Linked DNA regions of Homo sapiens: region 1 is linked to region 2. Evidence: fine-mapped QTL for protein levels in blood plasma. Region 2 holds a variant in brackets. A gene starts in the other region. All regions are shown on their reverse strands.

Region 1 (4,216 bases), not on the chromosome of region 2:
GGCTGCCTGACGGGATCCCAGCTCTCACCCCCCAGGCCGCTCCCCGCAAGAATCCCATCTCTGGGCGCGGTGGCTCACGCCTGTAATCCCAGCACTTTGTGAAGCCGCGCGGGGGCGGGGGGGGAGGGGGGGGTGCAGATCATGAGGTCAGGAGTTCAAGACCAGCCTGGCCAATATGGTGAAACCCCGTCTCTACTTTAAAAAAAAATACAAAATTTAGTCGGCGTGGCCTATAATCTCAGCTATTCGGAAGGCTGAGGCAGGAGAATCGCTTGAACCCGGGAGTCGGAGTTTGCAGTGAGCCGAGATCGCACCACTGCACTCCAGCCTGGACGACAGAGCGAGACTCCCTATCAAAAAAAAAAAGAAAGAAAAAAAAGAATCCCGTTTCCGTCTTGGGGCCCCTCAGCGTTGCAAACTCAGATACCCTCGGGCGGGAATGCCCCAGAGTACAGAACCCACAGTGGGCTGGGGACCGGGGGCAGATCCCAGCGCCCTACCCTGGGCGCAGTGCCTTCCAGTTGGACATAAGAGAAATGGGGCTGACCCAGCCAGTGCCTGGGCCAGCCCAGTCAGCCACGCAGATGAAGTTTTCCACGCAGACGTTCAGACTCTGTCTGCAAGAAAAGCTGACTCCAGAAAGTTCCGATTTCCAATCTGAATTTTCTAGAATTTTTCAGCGTTCAGAGCCTTCCATTAGTGAGGAGAGACACCCCCTTCCTGCCCACCTGGAGGGGCTGGAGGACCGTCCGTGTGACGGAAGGGAGCACCACGCCCCTACACAGCCCTGTCCCTCACCCCAGGCCCAGGCCTCCTCACCGCAGGCGGCCGCTCCTAGGAGGACCAGAACTGCCAGGCGCTCCCAGCTGTGCATGGTGAAGCCGCTGTGGCTGAGACACTGACCCAGGCAGGGCCCTGGGGGTGCTTTTATGAGGGTGGAGGGGGCGGGCCGCTCCCCGGGTGGGCAGCGGCCCAGCTGGGGAAAGGGGAACTCGCCCGCCCAGCCTCCGCCCTCCCCGGGACTGGGTTACCTCCTGCCAGACTCACACCAGAGTCGACAAGTCGCTGGGAGACCCTCGGGCCTCTGTGAGCCTGACAGCCTGCTGGCCCTGGTGGGGGGCAGTCCCTCAGATGGGCAGGAGGCAGAGAGGGGGGCTGCACCCACCCCGGCCCCAACTTCACCACACCCAGAGTCCCCCAGGGTGTTTCACAATCCTAGCTGGAGGCCACAGCGTGTAAACAACCCACTTTCTTGTCCTGCTACCCTCCCTTCTTTTCCTCCTCTATATTAGAGAGAAGGTCTGTTGGGGGTAGGAAGGTCACTTGACACCTTTGTCTCTGTCCCTGTGGCCTCTGGGGCTTGACACCCTGACGAATAGAAAGTTGGAAAGGCCAAGGCAGAGGCAGCTGGGAAGACTGGCTACAAGGGACAGGAAAACCCAGACAAACTGGGTGGAGCCTGAATCATGAAAGTTATATGGAAAGTTCAGGGATGTCCGCCTTCAGGTGTGGCTTGATCCAGGTGCCTGAACAATGTCCAGTGTCTGCTTCTGGCTTCTCCTTTCTTCTCTGATGGCTTCTTTCCTCACCAGCCTCCCCTGGTGTGTTTCCAGGGACCCCACACTCAACCCAGTGGCTCAGTGGGCCCCTCCTAAAATTCTTCCTCACTCCAGCCAAGTCTCAAGGGTGCCTTGGGTTGGTGGAGCCTGGATCACACGCCCCCTCCCAAACTGTTCACTGAGGGCAGGTTCTGATGAACAGAGTCAGGGCTGGCCGGGCACAGTGGCTCCCACCTACCATCCCGGCACATTGAGAGACCCAGATAGGAGCATCTCTTGAGCCCAGGAATTCAAGGCCAGCTTGGGGAAGACGGCGAGACCCCATCTCTACAAAAAAATTAAAATAAAATACTTCTCAGAATCTGGGCCATAGGGCCTTTTGTGAGGTGGGGATTTGTGTGTGTTGTTTTTGTTTTATTACAGACAGGGTCTTGCTCTTTCATCCAGGCTCGAGTGCAGCGGTGCAATCATAGCTCACTGCAGCCTCCTCGACCTCCGGGGCTCAAGTGATCCTCCCACCTCAGCCTCCAGAAGTGCTGGGACTGCAGGCCTGCTCATGGTGTAGCTCCATTTTTCACATCTGCCCCACAGGGGCCAGCGGGATTCACGTTGCATTAATCCATGGTGCGGGGACCAGAAGGATGGGGATACCTTGTGGGGAGGACCTCAGACATTGTCCCCAGGGGGAGCAGCACACGAGGTTCCCCCGGCTTTTCTCTTCACCATGGATCATTTCTTTCTTTTCTTTCCTTTTTTTTTTTTTTTTTGAGACGGAGTCTCGCTCTGTCGCCCAGGCTGGAGTGCAGTGGCGCGATCTCAGCTCACTGCAAGCTCCGCCTCCCGGGTTCACACCATTCTCCTGCCTCAGCCTCCGGAGTAGCTGGGACTACAGGCGTCCGCCACCACGCCCGGATAATTTTTTGTATTTTTAGTAGAGATGGGTTTCACCGTGTTAGCCAGGATGGTCTCGATCTCCCGACCTCGTGATCCGCCTGCCTCGGCCTCCCAAAGTGCTGAGATTACAGGTGTGAGCCACCACGCCTAGCCTCATTTCCTTCCTTCCTTTCTCTGTTTTTCTCTTTCTTTCCCTTTCTTTTTCTTTCTTTCTTTCTCTTTCCTTCTTTTTTTCTTTCTTTCTTGCTTTTTTTTTTTTTTTGCGACAGAGTCTTGCTCTGTCGTCCAGGCTGGAGTGCAGTGGCACAATCTCGGCTCACTGCGACCTCCACCTCCCGGGTTCAAGCGATTCTACTGCCTCAGCTTCCCGAGTAGCTGGGATTACACGCATGAGCAACCACACTGGGCTAACTTTTTGTATTTTTAGTAGAGACAGGGTTTTGCCATGTTGGCCAGGCTGGTCTCGAACCTCTGACCTCAGGTGATCCGCCCACCTCGGCCTCCCAAAGTGCTGGGATTACAGGCATGAGCCACCATGCCTGGCCCCCTGTGGATTATTTCATACGCACAGAGAATAGAAAATGATATAACAACAGGGCTGGGCGTGGTGGCTACGCCTGTAATCCCAGCACTTTGGGAGGTCAAGGCGGGCGGATCACGAGTTCAGGAGATCGAGACCATCCTGGCTAACACGGTGAAACCCCGTCTCTACTAAAAATACAAAAAATGAGCCGGGCGTGGTGGCGGGCGCCTGTAGTCCCAGCTACTCGGGAGGCTGAGGCAGGAGAATGGCGTGAACCCGGGAGGCGGAGCTTGCAGTGAGCCGAGATCGCGCCACTGCACTCCAGCCTGGGCGACAGAGCGAGACTCCATCTAAAAACAAAAAAGAAAAAAACACAATGTGGGGAAGTCACTTCTGCTCCATTGCCCTGGCTGTGCTGCCCCCTGGTGGTGGCTTACTCCAGAGATGCCCAAGAGACTCTGGATTCTAGTTTGTTGTTTATTATTATTATTATCATTATTATTTATATTTATTTATTTATTTATTTATTTATTTATTTATTTATTTATTTATTTTTGAGATGGAGTTTCGCTCTTGTTGCCCAGGCTGGAGTGCAATGGAGCGATCTTGGCTCACTGCAACCTCCACCTTCCAGAATTCAGGTGATTCTCCTGCCTCAGGCTTCCCGAGTAGCTGGGATTACAGGCATGCACCACCACGCCCGGCTAATTTTGTATTTTTAGTAGATATGGGGTTTCTCCATGTTGGTCAGGCTGGTCTCGAACTTTAGACCTCAGATGATCCGCCTGCCTGGGCCTCCCAAAGAGCTGGGATTACAGGCACGAGCCACCGCACCGGTATTTTTTTTTTTTTTTTTTTTTTTTGAGACGGAGTCTCTCTGTGTTGCCCAGGCTGGAGTGCAGTGGCGTAATCTCGGCTCACTACAGCCTTCGCCTCGCAGGTTCAAGCGATTCTCCTGCCTCAGCCTCCCACGCGCCACGACGCCAAGCTAATTTTTTTTGTATTTATAGTAGAGATGGGGTTTCACCACGTTGGCAGACTAGTCTTGAACTCCCGACCTCAGGTGATCTGCCAGCCTCGGCCTCCCAAAGTGCTGGGATTGCAGGCGTAAGCCACTGGGCCAGGCTTGGACCATTTTATTTTATTTTATTTTATTTATTTATTTTTTTTTAATGGAGCGGGGGTTTTGCCATGTTGCCCAGGCTGGTCTTGAACTCCTGAGCTCAAGTGATCCGCCTGC
Region 2 (8,000 bases):
ATAATATAATCTGAAGACCTCTTCTAACACTGAATTAAAGACACTGGAATAGATTTCTATCCAAAGCTTGACTTTCTTGGCTAGAGAATATTTTGGAAATTGGTTGATGGTTTCTATCTAGAGTGGTGAGACTCCTTCCTGAAACCACAAGTAGATGGACATGGGCCCTCTGGAAGGGGCAGCATGGTCCTGGGCCCTTACATGGAATTCAGGAAATGCCTTTTCTGGTCTCAGATCTGTCACTAACTCCCCAAATGACATGGAGTGGAGAAGAATATTATTTTACAGCACCCTCTCTGCTCCAAAATTAGACAGATGACCTCTGGGCATAACAGAGAAGTAGTCTACTTGAGGCAACTTAGGGACTGAGCTGCCTACCTGAAGTGCCCTACAGTCCTTGCATCTGTGAGTTGGGACAATTTTCCAGTTCCTTTCAAAGAAGAGATTAACATGGTGGCGGCGGGAGGTGAGATAGACTTCTCCACTTGTGCTTGCACAGCTGACTCTCTTCCAGAAGGCCACCCTAATGTCAGCATTAGCCTTCTGCAGAGGTTCCAACAGCCGTGGGGCACCAGCAGGCCTCCCCTCTGCAGGATGCTGCATGCTAGTTGGCTGACTACTGGTGCTCATGTGGAAACCACCCTGTGCCCCTGCCTACACACACCCAGTGAGTTGCCCTCCTAGAGCTGAGAACTCACAGAATGTCAGGCTGCAGGGGCCCTCTGGGGACGCATCTCATCTTAAGTTGTGGTTTTCAAATATATTCTCCCCAGTACACGTTTTCTTCTTCTTCTTTTTTTTTTTTTTTTTGAAACGGAATCTTGCTCTGTTGCCAGGCTGGAGTGCAGTGGCGGGATCTCGGCTCAGTGCAAACTCCACCTCCCGGGTTCAAGTGATTCCCCTGCCTCAGCCTCCTGAGCAGCTGGGACGACAGGCACATGCCACCATGCCTGACTAATTTTTTGTATTTTAGCAGAGACGGGGTTTCACCATGTTGGCCAGGATGGTCTTGACCTCCTGACCTCGTGATCCTCCCACCTCGGCCTCCCAAAGTGGGTTACAGACGTGAGCCACTGCACCCGGCCCACATTTTCTTCTTGAAAATCTTCAGTTAGGCCCAACGTAGAGAAGAGACAGAAGTGAGCTGCTCTAGCTGAAGGTGGTTTTGCTTGCTCATCCTTCTTGGTTACCCTGAAGCACCTTGAGGGATTATGGCTTGAATCTTGCTGCTCTGGCCACATTCCTATTGGACAGAAGAGGAGGTCAGAGTTCAGAGAGTGGGTGAGCAGTCTGCCTCTGAAATCCCAAACCCAGAAGTCTTACACACTGAGTTGAAACCCACTGACTTTTTCTAATCGCCTGGCCAATGCTAGCCCCTAGCATATATGCTTTTTCTGGCTATAAATGGAAGAGAAGCTTTTCCCTTTCCATCTGAATAAAAGCGCAAATATGCCATGTGGCCCCCAGGTAAATCCACATCCCTCTCCAAAATTCTGTTTTTTCCTCTGTTCAGTGAGAGGATGGAACAAGATGATCCCCATGGTCCTTTCAATTCTGGAATTGTAATCCCAATCCTCCTCACCAGAACTTCCAAGATGACCCCACCAAACACTCCTTATCATAGTCAGGATAACACCAGAAAACAGAAATCGTATGTTTACAGCAGCTGCTTCTCAATGTTGCATAACTGCAAGCACTCCAGTAGGAGCCTGCAGCCTGCTGGGGATGCCTTGGTGGTATGTCATCACAGAACTTGTAAACATATCATGCCAACACTGTTCTTTACCAAGAAACTTAAAATATCACTGACTTGCCTTTGACAGGATAAAATTCCCTGTTTTGAGGCATTTTTCCTCTATGACTAAATTCTCCTCACAGGCCTACATAGGAGTAGGTTTAAGAAACCTTCCAACTCACAGGAACATTTTCCAGCCCAGCCCAACCCCGCAAGCTGCCCTTCCCACCCAGGCCCATAGGGGCGATGATGATGGAACTGCTCATACTGCTCATCAGTAGCCTGAAGAAGAGCAGGACTCCCAAGTCTGTGGTCCGGATGCTCACATTTATGAAAATTCCTCTCCTGCCTGATTTCCCACAGTTCTTGGTCTTCAAGACTCATGCACATCTGCACAGCAGCATCTGCTTCCTTGGCATGTGGCTGCAATGTTTAGATTCCTGTAGTGTACGGATGAGGCATACGAATCAAGGCTGGTTAATGCTGCAGGCAAGAGGCAAAGCACAGATACTAGTCAGGGAGTCAGGCAGCCTGGGTCCTGGGTGTCATTCTATACTCATTAACCTTGGGCAGATGACTGCACCTAAAATGGACTCTGTTTCCTCCTCTTTCAAATACAAACGGTTAAACCAGATGGTCTCTAAGGTCTACTTTGCCTTGATGTTCTGTGCATCTAAGACCTTAGAAATCATGATCCAACCCCATGATCAACATGTCCAAAGTCCAGGGAAGGGCAGTTGATTGGCCAACATCATGCTTGTATTAGAATTTACATCTTAAGATTCTCAGTCTTTTCTTCTATTTATTTAACAGAATTATTTAACAGATTAAAAAACAGCAAAGTCCCATCTTGTGAATGACTAGTTTTTATGTTGTAACATAAGACAAATATTGTCTCTAGTCAAACTTACCATTAAAAAATCCCTTAAATATTGCAAAGCATTATCTTTTAGATGCCCAGAAAAGAATTTTTTTCCAAAAATGCAAGAAATTAAAGTTCCTTTGGTTGAGCACCAGATGAAGTGGTCCATTTATACTTACAAAGAAACTATGAAGCTATAGTTATGGAGAGAGTCTAGATAGTTAGAAACCAGAACCAACAAGAGAACAGCAGATTACACGTTCCAATTTCAAGTTCATTTCATGGCATCTATTCACTGTAAAAGGAAGCATAAATCATCTGCATTTGGATTGCACTCTCTTTCTTTCTTTCTCTTTATGTCACCATGTGTAATATTTTAATAGCATCTGTGACATGTTTATGTAATGCAATGCCACTGTTCTCCTTTTAACCCTATATCCTTGATGTATTCGACATTTCTTCCATCCTCTCCACTGCTAATTCCTTAGTTCCAATTCTTATTCCTCTCAACTAGTCTATTGTAATAGCCTTCTATATGTCTACCAGATGTCAGCCTCTCCCCATCTAGCCTACCTTCTATGAGTATCCAGAAGGATCTTCTTGGAACATAGCTTTGATTATGCTACTCTAAAAATCTTTCAATGCCTCCCCATTGTCTATGGAATGAAGCACAGTAATCCTATTGAAAATCTACCATAAGCTGGACACTATGCCAAAGACTGGGTCTGCAAAGATCAGTAAAAAGAATTCTTCGAAGTAAAATGAACTATAAAGTCCTCAAGGAATTCACGGTTCCATAGAATATAATGAAATAAGTGCATAATAAAGCCAGACAAAGTAACACAAGG[G/A]TTATCAGTCAGTATATAAGTTTGGGAGTGGTCATTTTTAGATGGCCAGGGAGGGCTTTGGAAATAGTTGATGTTTGAGATTAGTCTTTAGAGGTAAATAATAATTTGGCAGTGCAGTTCTCTAAGTAGGATTTCTTAGCAGAGCTACCATCAAAGCAGGGAGGTTGAAGAGGATGGGAATGATGCAAAACTGAGAATAATCAGAGTTGGCATGTTTTGGGGAGACGTAAAGCCCAGAAAGGTTATCTGAGGGTCAACTGAGAAATGTTTGGTAAATTTGGGTTTAAGCATGTGCTCCCCAAATCACATACGTGTGGTCAAAGGTTGAATTAATTTCACAGATGGATTTTGTTGGCCAGCCTAATATTAACTTATACTATGATTTGGGGGTGTAAAAAAAAGAAAGAATTATGACAACATAAAATTTCCGATCTCACACAACAATCTGCATTTCCAAGTTCTCTTAGAATATTAGAAAATCTGGCAACTCTTGCAGCTTCCTGCCTTCAACAATCAGCCAACACCAGGAAGAGGTGGCCTTGTGGGTAGGGTCCCCACCATTCTCTATAGCTCCCCCATGCTAATGCTTTCTGGCCTCTTAATGGCACCATTGCTGATTTTACAGTAAAGAAAGTGAATCATTTTTCCCCAGTGTCTCTATCAAAAGTAGAAAAGTTGAAAGTTCTTGAGAAAGACACGTATTTCAGGAAAAATTTCTTTGCAGAGTGAAGAATATCCCTCTGTATTTAACACGCAAAGTGTATATTTCTGTCTAAAGAATTCATAGCAGCTTGTTTCACTCATTTATGTTTTCTGCCTGGCATCTTTTAGCATTTTAGTCTAGGACGTCCAATTAGAAGCTGTGATGTGGCGGAGGGGTGGGGCAGTGGGGTTCGGGGATGTGACACAGTCGAGGGTATGCTTGAGGAAGGTTAATCTGGAGCTACATGAGGGATGTCAAGGACTAGTAAAGTCAAAATAAACTGGAGCTGCTGAATGAGGCCATTTAGGTGGCTGTGCTAAATAGATTGGATATGACTATGTGGAGCGTAGTATACTTCAAGAAAGCCCACAGGCCTCCTGGACAGCTATGGAAGAGCAGGTAGGATGTGCAGAGGTAAACTCCACAGGAACTGGCTGCGTATGGGAGAGGAAAAAGGAGGAATCAGAGGCTTTAAGCCCCAGTTATGACAACTTATTGGCTACTTACCCAGAAATTGAGATCAGGAACGTGAAGATGTGTAGATTTAGAAAGATATAGAGTGCACTGAAGTGCATTGAGTTTTGAATACAGCTGGAAATGCTGGTCTAAATTTTGAGACAGAGCTTAAAGAGTCGTAAGAGTGGGTGTAGAAAGAGCACAGAGACAGTGATGGAGAGAGGATTAACACAGTGAGGATTAAATTCTGTCTCTGCCACCATCTGAGTGAGGAACCTTGGTGAAGCTCCTTGATCTCCCTCAGCAATGGTTTTGTCATCAGTTGAAAGGAAGAGTTCCTAATGAATACAACGTCTTCCTCACAGGTTGTGGGAGGATTTGAATGACATGAGGGTCTAAGTGGAATCAGTACTGCAAAACGCAGTTGTGCTCAGTGGTTGGGAGCTCAAACTTTGGAGTCATTCAGACCCAGCGTCAAGTCTTGCCTCCACTTCTTACTGGAGCAGTTGCTTAACCTTGCTAAGATTTTCTTCTCCATCTGTAAAATGGAGATAATAATGATGCTTATTTCATAGACTTACTGTGAATGCCAAATGAAGTAAATGCTTTAATGTCATATGTCCAACACATCTCTAATTAGCTCAAAAGTACTATTATAGTGGTAATGAAGGCAATGGTATGAGTAATAAAGTGTCTGCCTGGTATCACCAGATGTTCAATGAATGTCAGTTTTCTTATCAACTCTGACCCTACCACTGACTGCCTATGTATGACCTTGCTAATGTTACTGAGTTTTTTCTAGCAATTTATGGAAAAGTGCTTCCAAAGCACTATTCGAAAGCAGGAGGTTATTTATTTCTCCTTTGTATTTACCTTGTAGAAACACACATTTTACAGCAGTTTCTAATCTATTAACTCATTTGATTCCCATGGAATAGGAAGAGCACGGATTATTGCACCTAATTTACAAAAAAGGAAACAGGTACAAGTGAATTTGTTCAAGTCTCTGCAGGAAAGCCAGGCTTGAATCCCTGCTCTTCTAACTCCCCAAGTCATGGTTCTGTGTCTCCATGCAGCCTTCCTCAGAACAGGCTTTACTGTGGAAGGGGTCCTGTTGTGTTTCCTGGCCATGCATTATTCCTGAAACAATACTCTATTTGTCAAGATGATTTCATAAAATTTAGTAAAACAGAAGGTCCTTGAGGGTCCCTATATTGTCTAGATTATTTTAAATAACGTTCTCTTTTATCCTTTGAGAGAAAAAAATGTTTTTTAAAAATAATAGAAAATGGAGTCTGAACTACAGTGAATCTGCAAGTGCTTGTATCATCTGCTTGTAGTACATCCTTTCTGATGAGCTCAAGCTCATTCCCACTAGATTGCCAGCCCCATGAGTTCAGGGCCTATGTCTGTGTTTTCTCCAGTAGAAAGCACAGTCCTGGGCAGAACAGGAAAAGGCACATGTCTCCTGGCAGTGGAAAGGGCTCTGGCCTAGAAAACAGCTGCTGACTCCTGCTGAGAGCTTGGGCAAGTCACGTCTTCATTCAAGGCCTCAGTTTCCCCATCTGCCTGATGAGGGAACTGGACCAGCTGGCCTCTCCAAACCCTTCCAGTTCTGATGGTCTGTGACTCCCAGTCCAATGCCCCTTCCCTCAGGCCACATTGGGTCAGTCTGCATCCTGCTGTGTAATTGAGAGGTAAGTCGCTCCCAAGTGGGACTCTTCTGACCCCTAAGCTCCTAATTTCTGTGCAATGCTCTGTGTTTACTTAGAACATGCCCTCGACCTTCCGGCTGAACTCATTTCACCTACTGCATAACTCTGCTCATTCTCTGGGAGTGGACAGGAGGCCTTGGCCCCAGAAGGAAATGAGAAATGGGTAAACATTTCTCATGAATTTCAATTGTAGTCTCCGGTGGAATTCTCCCACTCCAGAGACACCAGGACCCAAACACCAATTCTAGCTTATTCAGAAGAATTAGAAAATGAAAATGAGCTTGCTTCAGGAAAGTGTAATGAAAGCTCATTTTATGCCAAAAGTGCAAACAGCACAGGCTTCAGGGTGATGGAAAACAAAAGGAAGCTCGCAGTGCTGAGGAAGAGCATGTGGGTGAGTGTGAGCTGGGAAGGTCCCAGGTGTGGGTGCACATGGGGTGCATATCTCTGTGCTTGAGTATATTACAGGTTGCTGTTGAAAACACCTTGGTGAAGAGCAGTGCCTGACTTTACTTCGATGTGCTTATAAAGGGAAAAGTTAAGGGACGAAGAGGTATTCATTTATTCAACAAATATTCATCCAGTGCCTACAATTTATTAGAGCTTAGGGTACAGCAGTAATTAGAACAGATAGAAATCTCTGAAGTGAGGCTTACATTGCACTGGGATAAACAGACAATAAACACTAAACATAATACATAACTAAATTATGTACTAAGTAATAAGTTTATGGACAAAAATAAAATAGAGCAGGGCTCTGCATGAGTTGAGATGGGGGCTCTGATTTAAATATGGTGCTCATTGAGAGAGTGACATTTGAGCAAACACTTGAAGCAGGTAAGGTTAGCCATGTGGCTTTCTTGTTGGGGGGGCTACCCTGGGGGGCACTTTAACCAGAGGGAACATTCAGTGCCCTCAGGTGGAAAGTGCCTGGTGTGTTTGAAGAATAGCAAGGATGGCAGTGTGGCTGGAGGGCAGGAACATGAATGAAGACTGAGAGGTACAGATGGGGGGCGGGATGGGAGACTGGAAAACAGGGTTCCTGTTAAATGCTGCCAGCCAATGGCAGGCTTTACAAGCTGCTTTCATGCCCCGAATCTCATTTGACCTGATGCTCAGAGTATTAATGTCCACTTTTTACGTTTGTGAAAACTGTGCCCTGGAGACAGGGGCATGGGTGCTAACAACCAGATTGGGGGGTGGGGGCAGGGAATGGGGGCAAAGAGATGCGCAGTGGCTTATCATTCGACATTCAGATAGCACAGACACAGAGAGCCCGCAGAGCATAGAGCATAGAACAATCACATAATTAGGAAGTAATGAGTTTTCACAGAACTGGTTTTCATAGAACTGGTTTCTAATAGAATGTACTTAATTTTAAGTTTATGAAACTTGATGATGGCTGGATTTAACAACAGGGTAGCAAAATCTCTGAAAAGCTGACAGTTGGCTCTTATAAACTGGTGTGAGCTGCCGGCTCCAGCACACCTACCGCCTGGGGAGGTTTAAGTGACCCCTGAGGTATGAGTGGCAGAGCTATGACAGTTGGTCCTTATTCCAGCACTCTTGTAGGATTTCTGTGCAAAGATTTGAGGATATAAGTTTAGCCTGAGTCAGGGCAAGGTCCTGGGCAGTGTCACAGGAACACAGCAGCTCACAATCCTTGAAACTCTGCTGGAAG

Which allele goes with the higher level. Alleles are on the strand shown, and positions count from the first base shown. The strength of an association depends on the size of the effect and on how common the allele is.
As copies of A replace G in region 2, the plasma level of the protein whose gene starts at base 900 in region 1 goes up (weak association).

What was found. A credible set is the group of variants that fine-mapping cannot tell apart. PIP is the chance, under the fine-mapping model, that this variant and not a neighbour inherited with it causes the effect. Protein levels are from antibody-based Olink assays in UK Biobank. Linkage for the fine-mapping came from a reference panel and not from the study's own genotypes, which makes the PIPs less certain.
Region 1: it holds the start of CFD, and the variant in region 2 is the best candidate, but not a certain one, in a credible set for the plasma level of the CFD protein (UK Biobank, PIP 0.53).

The regions. Positions count from the first base shown.
Region 1 is chr19:856,348-860,563 of GRCh38, reverse strand. CFD (complement factor D) reads right to left here and starts at 900. Exons shown (of 5, transcript NM_001928.4): 1 at 820-900. The coding sequence starts at 874.
Region 2 is chr3:187,275,306-187,283,305 of GRCh38, reverse strand. All of the region lies in intron 2 of MASP1 (MBL associated serine protease 1), which reads left to right. Among named protein-coding and RNA genes, the nearest start is that of MASP1, 12 kb to the left of the region's middle. The variant G/A (reference allele first, on the strand shown) is at 3,446.